Linked DNA regions of Homo sapiens: all the other regions are reported to be linked to region 1. The links are microRNA targets in miRTarBase. Many come from high-throughput screens and were not tested one by one. Region 1 holds a microRNA gene; each other region holds the end of a gene's coding sequence.

The links. The annotated mature microRNA hsa-miR-550a-3p reads UGUCUUACUCCCUCAGGCACAU and lies in region 1 at 1,889-1,910, opposite strand. An mRNA with a match to its seed (bases 2 to 7 or 8) in the 3' UTR can be bound and repressed. Matches are read on the target gene's strand: a 7mer-m8 pairs with bases 2 to 8, a 7mer-A1 pairs with bases 2 to 7 and ends in A, and an 8mer does both.
Region 2: miRTarBase lists TPM3 as a target of hsa-miR-550a-3p. The part of its 3' UTR that is shown has no 7-base or 8-base seed match.
Region 3: miRTarBase lists HPS4 as a target of hsa-miR-550a-3p. Seed matches in the 3' UTR shown: 7mer-A1 at 1,504-1,510.

What each region holds. Positions count from the first base shown.
Region 1 is chr7:32,731,709-32,734,950 of GRCh38, reverse strand. It overlaps MIR550A2 (microRNA 550a-2), which reads right to left and starts at 1,970; the gene lies at 1,874-1,970. It overlaps MIR550B2 (microRNA 550b-2), which reads left to right and starts at 1,874; the gene lies at 1,874-1,970.
Region 2 is chr1:154,165,424-154,168,423 of GRCh38, reverse strand. It overlaps TPM3 (tropomyosin 3), which reads left to right. Exons shown (of 10, transcript NM_152263.4): 10 at 484-3,000. The coding sequence ends at 487. It also overlaps the pseudogene RN7SL431P. Among named protein-coding and RNA genes, the nearest start is that of NUP210L, 12 kb to the right of the region's middle.
Region 3 is chr22:26,450,541-26,453,540 of GRCh38, forward strand. HPS4 (HPS4 biogenesis of lysosomal organelles complex 3 subunit 2) reads right to left here. Exons shown (of 14, transcript NM_022081.6): 14 at 342-2,864. The coding sequence ends at 2,693. Among named protein-coding and RNA genes, the nearest start is that of ASPHD2, 23 kb to the left of the region's middle.

The DNA of each region.
Region 1 (3,242 bases):
ACTTCTATCCAGATGGAAATCCTATAGCCACTCAAATTTAACAGGCCTAAAAGGAACTCATTATCATTTCCTAAAACTTGTTATTTTCATCTTTAATACTGGTTAAAGACATCACTGTGTACCCAGGTTCTCAATTCTATCAGTTCTACCTTAGAAATCTCAATCAAATCTAACTTTTCTTCTCCCTCACCAATGCCATCTTTTCAACGTAGGCATCTTCTATCAGTTATATTCTAAAAGAATCCTAACTTATCCTCCTGCTATCACACTCTCCTCCTTAAGAACTGAATCCTGATCAGGGTTGCTGCATACAGCCTGAAGTCTGCACCACTAGAGAAGGTTGCCATCCATGTAAACTACGAATGTTAATTGTGCCCAATGGCCTAATCATGATACTCCCCCTGCTTTCAAACTTCATTAGATAAAACAAACCTACAGCACTATAAAATCCTTCAACTGGCTCCACTTTCTATTTTTCTAGCTTCAGGTGCTCATCATTCCTCTATGCACCCTACAGTCCAGACATATTTAACTTTTCAGTATGCCCTATCAAAACCCAAGCTTTTGTGGATTTTTCTTTAGTCTACAGTGCCCTCTCTCCATAAAACTTCTAAATCCTTCAAACTACAGTTCAAATGTACCCTCCTCTGTGAAGCATTTTTTGACTAGCCTAGACAAAGATACTTCACGAAGCATTTTGTTAACAGTTCTATTACTGAATTTGTTGCACTGTATAATGATCACACATATCCATCTCTCAAATTCAATGGAGAGTTGAGCAGTGCATAAAGAAGCCCCACATTTAAACCCTGAATATCTACAATGCCCAGCCCCTAAAAGGGGCTCAATTCATGTTTATTAATACTATACTTACCATATGCATTAGTACAACTTTTTAAAAGTAAATAAAAACTGAGTTTTAAAAAAAAGTTGCATGTTCAGCTGTCAATCTAAGTCTATAATCCATGTGGCAGACAGAATTGATGTGACTATTCTTGATTCCTACACTTCCTGGTGTTTAAACCTTTGTATAATTCCCTCCCCTTGCACGTGAACTGGACCTATGACTTGCTTCTAATCAATGAAATACAGCAAAGGCAATGGGTTGTATGTGATTACATGTACACGATTATGTAAGAACATAGCACCAGTTCACCTTTGATAGACTCTCTTCCTTTGCTGACTTTGAAGAAGCAAGCTGCTCTGAACCAAACAGACACAAGGAAATAAATTCAGCCAATAACCCAAGGAAGTCTGGGGGCAGACCTTTCCCCAGTTGAGTCTCTACATAACAACCCAGCCCTGGCCAACACTTTGACTGCAGTCTTACAGAGGACACAGCTAAGTTGTGCCCAGCCTCTTGACCCATAGAAATTGCGAGGTAATAAATGTGTTGCTTAGAACAGCTAAATTTGTAGTTATTTGTGAACAAGCAGCTTAGAACATGAATAAAATAAAAAAAAAAAGAAAATGAATAAAATCAGAACCTAAGGTATTTCTGAACTCTTTGTTCACAAAAAGGCCTATGTTTTGTCCAATTTCTAAACAAATAAATGTCATGTATATGCAAAATTAAAACACAGACTAACATTTCAAATAAACAATAGTTCTTAAGAATATTCACATAAGGTAAAACTTAGGAAGTAATCTGCTACATAAAGCAGTTCCTACACTCTCTTTTAACACATTTGCCAGTATACCCAATTGTACATAATACTTAGTACATGTAATAAGTTTAATATTAGGGCAATTCTCCTTACAAACCCAAATAATAATAAATAGTTTAAAAGTTGATATCTAATTAATGATATTTGGTAATCAAAAGAACTTACTTACTGGTCACCAGGCAAAGCAATCAAATTGGAGGAGAGCAAGAGACTCGCTGGAGATGTGCCTGAGGGAGTAAGACACTATCTGACAACAACAGGGCTCTTACTCCCTCAGGCACTGCACCAGCCAGCAAAGCATCAAAATACCAGGTTCTTAGGTCACGCTGCTCTCAGATCAGGTGATGCCCTGTGCAACTCACCAATCCTCCCCACCTTGCAGTCAAGAATAGTTCCAAAAAATCCCCAAAGCAGAAACGTCCATGACACAGGCCACACTTACACACAGCAAAACATATAACACGAAGGTATGAAATTACAAGTGAGAAACAATAACCACCAAAATTCTTATTACTTCAGGAGTGGCAGGGGTTGTGGTTAGAAGGCTCATTTTTCTTAGAAAGAGGCAAACATTCCTCTTTGGCCACTCCCCATAAAAGCCTTCAATGGCACAAAATAACATTCAGGAATAGGAAGTAGATTAATTAGAGTATCCCAAATTCAAACATTTTGGCACTTGATATTGGTAAGAAGAGATAACTGAGACCAATTCCATAATGGTTAATTGATGAAGACAACCTAACAGCATAAAACTTCACATCTGCTTAAAAATTAAGAGAAATCGTCCTAGAAATACAGGTCTTATTCAACATATTCAGTTTTAAGAGATAACCCACACTCCTTCAATATAAGAAAACATGTTGCACAAGTAACAAGGCACCTGAGTTACAATCAGACTACTGAAATACTCATGAGCAAGCCACACCCAAAAAAGCTCAAGAAAATCAGGAGGCCAAAAGCAACCCAGCACCACTAGTTGTCTTAGATTAAGTCATTTTACATTTTCACTTCCGGACTCAAAGATACATTATAGAAGTCCACACGATGTCTCTGGAAATAATCTCCATGTATTGGTATATTTCTATAGCCCAATTCATCTACCCCATCCTTGCTGCATCATTAAAGGCTATTTGACCACTCATGTTATGCTCTTATGAACAATAGCTACTTGACAGTGGAAAAAAAAACGTAGACGTAAATTAAAGCCAAACAAACCCTAAAATACCGTCAAGATTTTTAAATATTAGGAAATACCCTTAAGACCTTTTTTAAAACAAAGGTGATGGACGACACTAGCAGTAGTCAAGAAAGCGTCTGTTCACTTTAACACTCCTCAGTCTGAAAAGAATAATAAGGACAAGATTTACTTCACCTAAGAACTCCTAAATATAATCACATTCTGATGTCCGGCAACTCAATTCTAGGAAATTTCTACACACTGAAATATCTGGATTAGGCATTTTTCTTCCAGTTCTCTAGAGAGAATAAGAGTGTATATAGCGAAAATAGATGTCCAAAAGACAGCAAAACATAAAACCAACACAGAAAACTTCCTCGTTCAATGTGGCAATTCAT
Region 2 (3,000 bases), not on the chromosome of region 1:
TCTCAAATTTAGTCTTCTCAGAAGGGATACTGCTAGAGGTAGAATCCATACAACTAAGGAAATAGGGCCCACAGAGCCAGTAACTTGGGCCCTGACACATTAAGACAAAATTCAGGCCTCCTGGGTGTGTTTAATTGGTTCCCTGATATTAAAGTTCAGGGAACTACCCAAGATGGGAAATACCAAATTCACCTAAGAATTGAGCTGAGTCCCAGAAGCAAGCCAAGTGATAAACAGCACCAAAAAGAGTTGTTGGGGCTTCATCTGTTTGCTGTGGATCCCTGATCCTTGATGCTAATCTGCCTCTTTGTATCTTTCCCACTAACCCTGAAAAGAAGCCACATTTCTCAGGCTGAAGTGTCTGGCTCTCTTTTATTATTCCTGCTGCCACCTCTTCCTTTTTTTCCTCTTCCTTTTTCCCAGTTTGCTATCTAGATTGATGCTAGTCCTTCTCACCTAGAGTATCCTTACTTTTTCATACAGATAATTATCACCGTTTCTGCTCTGTTCTGGATCTGCCCCCTTTACTCCTCGGGGAACCCAAGGCCCCACTCTCGCTCTGGATTCCATTTGGGTCAGCCTGGCTGGTCCCCAAGGCATTAGGATGGGGGAGCAAAAAGCAACTTATGTATTTTCTTCCACCCCCACCCCAAATTAAAATGTTAAGCTGCTGGAAACCTCATGCCACCCTGCATTTGTGTCATTGACAAAGCTGTTGCTGTCCCTAAGAAGGAGCCTTGGGGGTGTGATGTGGGGAAGAGCTATTGTAGGCTCCCCCTCCTCTGACTTATGTAATCAAAGCCACTTTTGTGTGTGTCTATTTTTTCTTGACATTTAAACTCAGCTGATCTGATTCTACCAGAGTGATGGATTTAGTACAGGTTACTCAGGATAGTAATTTTAGTTATACTCCTCAAGCTGAACAAGATTAAATTCCTTATTTCCAGGTTCTTAAATCATCCTGCCTGCAGTGTTTCCATTCTCTCTTCAGGTATTCCTCCTTTGGTGTGGTGTCATTGAGAAGCCATTGAAGTGACTCTCAATACACATTCTGTACCCTTTTACCGGTGGTTCAAATGGTGCATCCTCAGAACACCCAGTGAACCCAATACATTATTGCTAAGATTGACTAATTATGTCAACTCCAGTCACAGAAAAATACACAATGGATAGAATTCTGGACGGTTTTTTTACTTTTTCTTCTTTAAACCTTTCTTACATATTTGAGACTTGCTACCATTTGCCTGCTAGTGTGTGACTAGTGGGATATAAGATAAGTGATAAATTATTATTGGGAAAACTAAAATGACCAATCATGCATATTTCAAATAATGTGCATATGAGGCTAATGATTTATTACATACATAAATTTCTGCTAGTAAAATTTTCCTTGGTTCATATTGTGGAATTAAATATCAACATTTTAGAAATTCCCATTATAGGCCGGGCGTGGTAGCTCACGCCTATAATCCCAGCACTTTGGGAGGCTGGGGCAGGTGGATCACCTGAGGTCATGAGTTCGAGACCAGCTCGGCCAACATGGTGAAACCCCGTCTCTACTAAAAATACAAAAATTAGCTGGGCATGGTGGGTGGGTGCCTGTAATCCCAGCTACTCGGGAGGCTGAGGCAGGAGAATCGCTTGCACCTGGGAGGCGGAGGTTGCAGTGAGCGGAGATCGCGCCACTGCATTCCAGCCTGGGCAACAGAGAGACTCCATCTCAAAAAAAAAAAAGGAATTCGCATTCCAATTTACACAGCAGAGATTTCTTAATAGTATAGCTGTGAATTATACTAATCCAAGCACGTAAGTGTTGTTCACTTAGTACTTTAGTTTCCCAGCAGGGTATGTATTTAAAATTTGCTTTTCTTTTAGCTGGGTGCAATGGCACTTGCCTGTACTGCCTGTAGCTTCTTGGGAGGCTGAGGCAGGAGGATTGCTTGAGCCCAGGAGTTCTGCACTGTAGTGTGCTATGCAGGTCAGATGTCCTCACTAAATTTGGCATCAGTATGGTGACCTCCTGGGAGTGGAGAACAACAAGGTTGCCTAAGAAGGGGTGAACTGGCCCAGGTCGGAAATGGAGCAGGTCAAAATTCCTGTGCTGATCAGTAGTGGGATTGCACCTATAAATAGCCACTGTAGTACTCCAGCCTGGGCAACACAGCAAGATTCCATCTGTTAAAAACACTTTTGCTCTTCTTTTAAACAGATATAATCAGGTAGGGAAGTTTTCCTTAATCTAAAACTTTAAGTCATATCAAATTCACGTTTCCTTTTGTCCATTCCATTTCTTACTGCCGCATAGCCTTTGAGATTAAGGTTCAGATTCATTTATTCAGCTGACACTTCCTGGTATCTTCTAGGTATAGGATATTAAGATGGAGACAGAAATAAAGATGGAGGCACCATTCCTACTCTCAAGTTGCTTAGAATCTACTAGGAGAGAAAACATACATAAAGCTACAGATACTGTGTGATGAATGCCACAAATAATAGTGTTATGGGAATTGAGTAGAGGGGACGAGATTGATCCTAGTGGGAATGAATTGGAAAAACTCATGGAAGAAGGCATGTAATGGGTACTTCATAAACATGTTAAAACTTTTTTCTTTTTTTCTTTTTTTTTTTTTTTTTGAGACGGAGTTTGACTCTTGTCACCTAGGCTGGAGTTCAGTGGCCTGATCTCAGCTCACTGCAACCTCTGCCTCCTGGGTTCAAGCAGTTCTCCCACCTCAGCCTCCCGAGTAGCTGAGATCACAGGCGCCTGCCACCACACCCAGCTAATTTTTGTATTATTAGTAGAGGTGAGGTTTCACCATGTTGGCCAGGCTGGTCTGGAACTCCTGACCTCAAGTGATCCACCCACCTCAGCCTCCCAAAGTGATGGGATTACAGGCTTGAGCCACTGCGCCCAGCCAACATGTTAAACTTGCATATTCATTTTTATTGGGTTCCAAAAGTGGATTTTTGACAAGCAGAGTTGGGTTGTGGGATAGTGAA
Region 3 (3,000 bases), not on the chromosome of region 1:
CCCCTCTAGGGGTCCTTTCCCAGTAGGAATCTGATTGCCACTTGATATGGTTTGGCTGTGTTCCCACCCAAATCTCATTTTGTAGTTCTCATAGTCCCCACATGTCGTGGGAGGGACCTGGTGGGAGGTAATTGAATTATGGGTGTGGTTACTTCCATGCTGTTCTTGTGACAGTTCTCGTGAGATCTGATGGTTGTATAAGGGGCTTTTCCCCCCTTTCACTCTGCACTTCTCTTTGCTGCCACCATGTGAAGAAGGATGTGTTTGGTTCCCCTTCTGCCATGATCATAAGTTTCCCAAGGTCTCTCCAGCCCTGCAGAACTGTGAGTCAGTTAAACCTCTTTCCTTTATAAAGTACCCAGTCTCGGGTATGTCTTTATTAGAACCGTGAGAACGGACTAACACACCACTATTAATCACTCATGCGACCTTTATCCTTACAGTTCACAGGTGGCAGATGGCTGGCACAGAGGAAGCCAAAACAGAGGCTTTTCTGCCCTGAAGAGTCACTAGAATCTGTGGTCCTGGATCACTGACAGTGGCACTCGGTGTCAACTAGGAGTCCAGGGTGGGCAGGCTGTCCTGCACACTGCCTTCCCTTGGGAAACATGGCCATAAGAGGTTGTGGTGCCCATTCCAGCAAGAACATGCTGCTTGGCTGTCCGTCGCTTGGCCCGTACTCTGGGGGCGCTAATTTTGAGGGGATGGGCCTGGGGCTGTGGGATTAACCGTGTCCTGAGTGACCCCCTGAAACCTCTGAAATATTAAAAAACGGGAAAACAGCGGGTTAAGTGTTTCTTCTCTGCAGCCTCTGGGCCACAGTTACCAAGCTTTAGAGATGACGGCTGCAGCTGCCAGTGCCCTGGGGCTCTGAGCAGAACCTCCACTGCAGAAACTAAGCAGGATCAAAGGAGGAAAGAAAGGGGCACACCTGCAAAGTGAAGTTTCAGGACTTTACTTTTTCTGAGTTAATCCAGGTGCATGAGACTTTTCCATATACACGGATAGGCTTTGTACGGTTCCATTTTGGGTCAGTGGAAGAATTTTCACAACACAAATGACATTATAAAGTTGTCTTCGCTGGCCTGGTACTGGGGACCACTGGTCAAAGACAACGTGAGACATTGCGGGGACTTCCTGGAGCTGCAGCAACCACAGCAGAGAACTTGTAATCAATTTTTTCTGGGAGAACATAGCAGAGGAGTAAGACAACATTTATCCTAGCTTCGGATAGGATCCTCTTCCATCTAGGCAGATGGGATCCAAGAGACAGCAGAGATCCTGGAGAGAGGTGATAGAAGAGGGAGACACAGGCTTGGTGTATTGGATCAGCTGCAGCTGGTGCTCCCTGGAGCAGCAGGCTGCAGCCTGGCAGCCCTACAAACAGACGGTCCTTACCCAGCCACACTGAACCCAGGGAAGGAAAAGAGGGATGCGCCCACGTTACGCGCGCGCGCGCGCGCGCACACACACACACACACACACACACACACACACACACACTGTCTTAACCCTTACCTTTGTCACAAAAAAATGCTGCCATTTAATTACTCAGAACTCCAGCATTTTTTGGCTATTTTATTTCTAGCCCTTGGAAGCTTGTTTCAAGAAAAAGACACCATATCATAAACATCAGATATCAGTTCACTGACATGAAATTATTAACAATACAACTCTCAAATGGAATCTCAAGTACTTCCAGTAAACATTCAGTTAAGATTTTGACAAATATTTTCATCCTGCAGTCTGTCTCATACTGTCAAAAAAATGTCTGACTATAACGTAATAGAACTGAGGTTCTAAGTACCACACAAGCCCAGGAACACACAGCTGAGTGTCGCTCCCTTTCACGCAGCCACCACTGAAAAGCACAGTGCTTTTACCCCCAGACATCTTGTAAACTCCTATTTAGGGACACTCGCTCGAGAGGAACCAGCTGCACGGCCCACTTGTAGTCAAAGGCAGCGCAGGTTGGTCCTGTTGTCACTGAATTCTCAGGGCTCAGCCCCCAGAGCTTTTATAAAGGGATCTCTAAAGCCCAAACTCCCTTCCATATTATTAAGGCTTGCCCCCATTGTGGGTCCAAAGAAGACGCCCCTAGATTTGAGTAGAGTTCCAACAGAATTCAACCAAGTGGTCTCCGTGTGCTGCCGCTTCCCTGCAGGAACGATCCGGACCTCCCAGCAAGAGCGCACTGGAGAAACCTACCTGCGGCGTGGGAGTGGAGTCGGCCTGCTCACAGATCCGGCACCTCGCTGTGCAGTCACACCGCCTACCACCACCTGGTGTGGGGGTTGAACACACACACTCTGGGCTAGTGGACGATCAGGTTCTAGAAAAAATGCCAACTTGGAAGCTTGTGGCACCAATTCAAGCTGGGATGGAACAGCAGGAGATATGAAATACCTCAGGCTCAGTATGGCAGAGAGGGAGCCAAGCCCGTCCCGGCCCCAACACTACCGATTAAATACAGTTCTTTATCAAGTGCTCTGGGTCTGCCGACCTGAAGAACTAACCCCTGCCCCCAAAACACATCCCAATCTGCAAAAGGAATAACAAAAACTCAAATATCATTTGGTTCCTAAAAAAGGGAATGTTTTCAAGAAAAATAAAATAGAGGGGCCTTTTCAATTATAAAAGGCAGAGCTTCCTTTGCTGGTTTTCTCCTTCCCAGTCACCTCCTGGGTGCAGTTCAGAGCAAGTTCACCCCGTGCTTCAGCAGCTTCTGCTTTGCTTTGCCGGAGAGGCTGAAGGCGCCATCCTGAGGGTTTGGGAAGCCGGAGCTCCGTGCTGCAGGTGCCAGCTGCTGGAAATATGTCTCCTGGATGGGGTTGCAACAGGCGTACACAGCCGTGGAGGCATTTCTGTTGGAGGAAGAAAGAAGGCAACGGTCCAATGCTGCTGGTGCTAATCTCAGACCACACAGAGACCTCAGTAAGGTTCTTGTCACAGAGGACCCAGGACACCCAATGTGGCATGTGCAGCTGTCATGGCACGGAA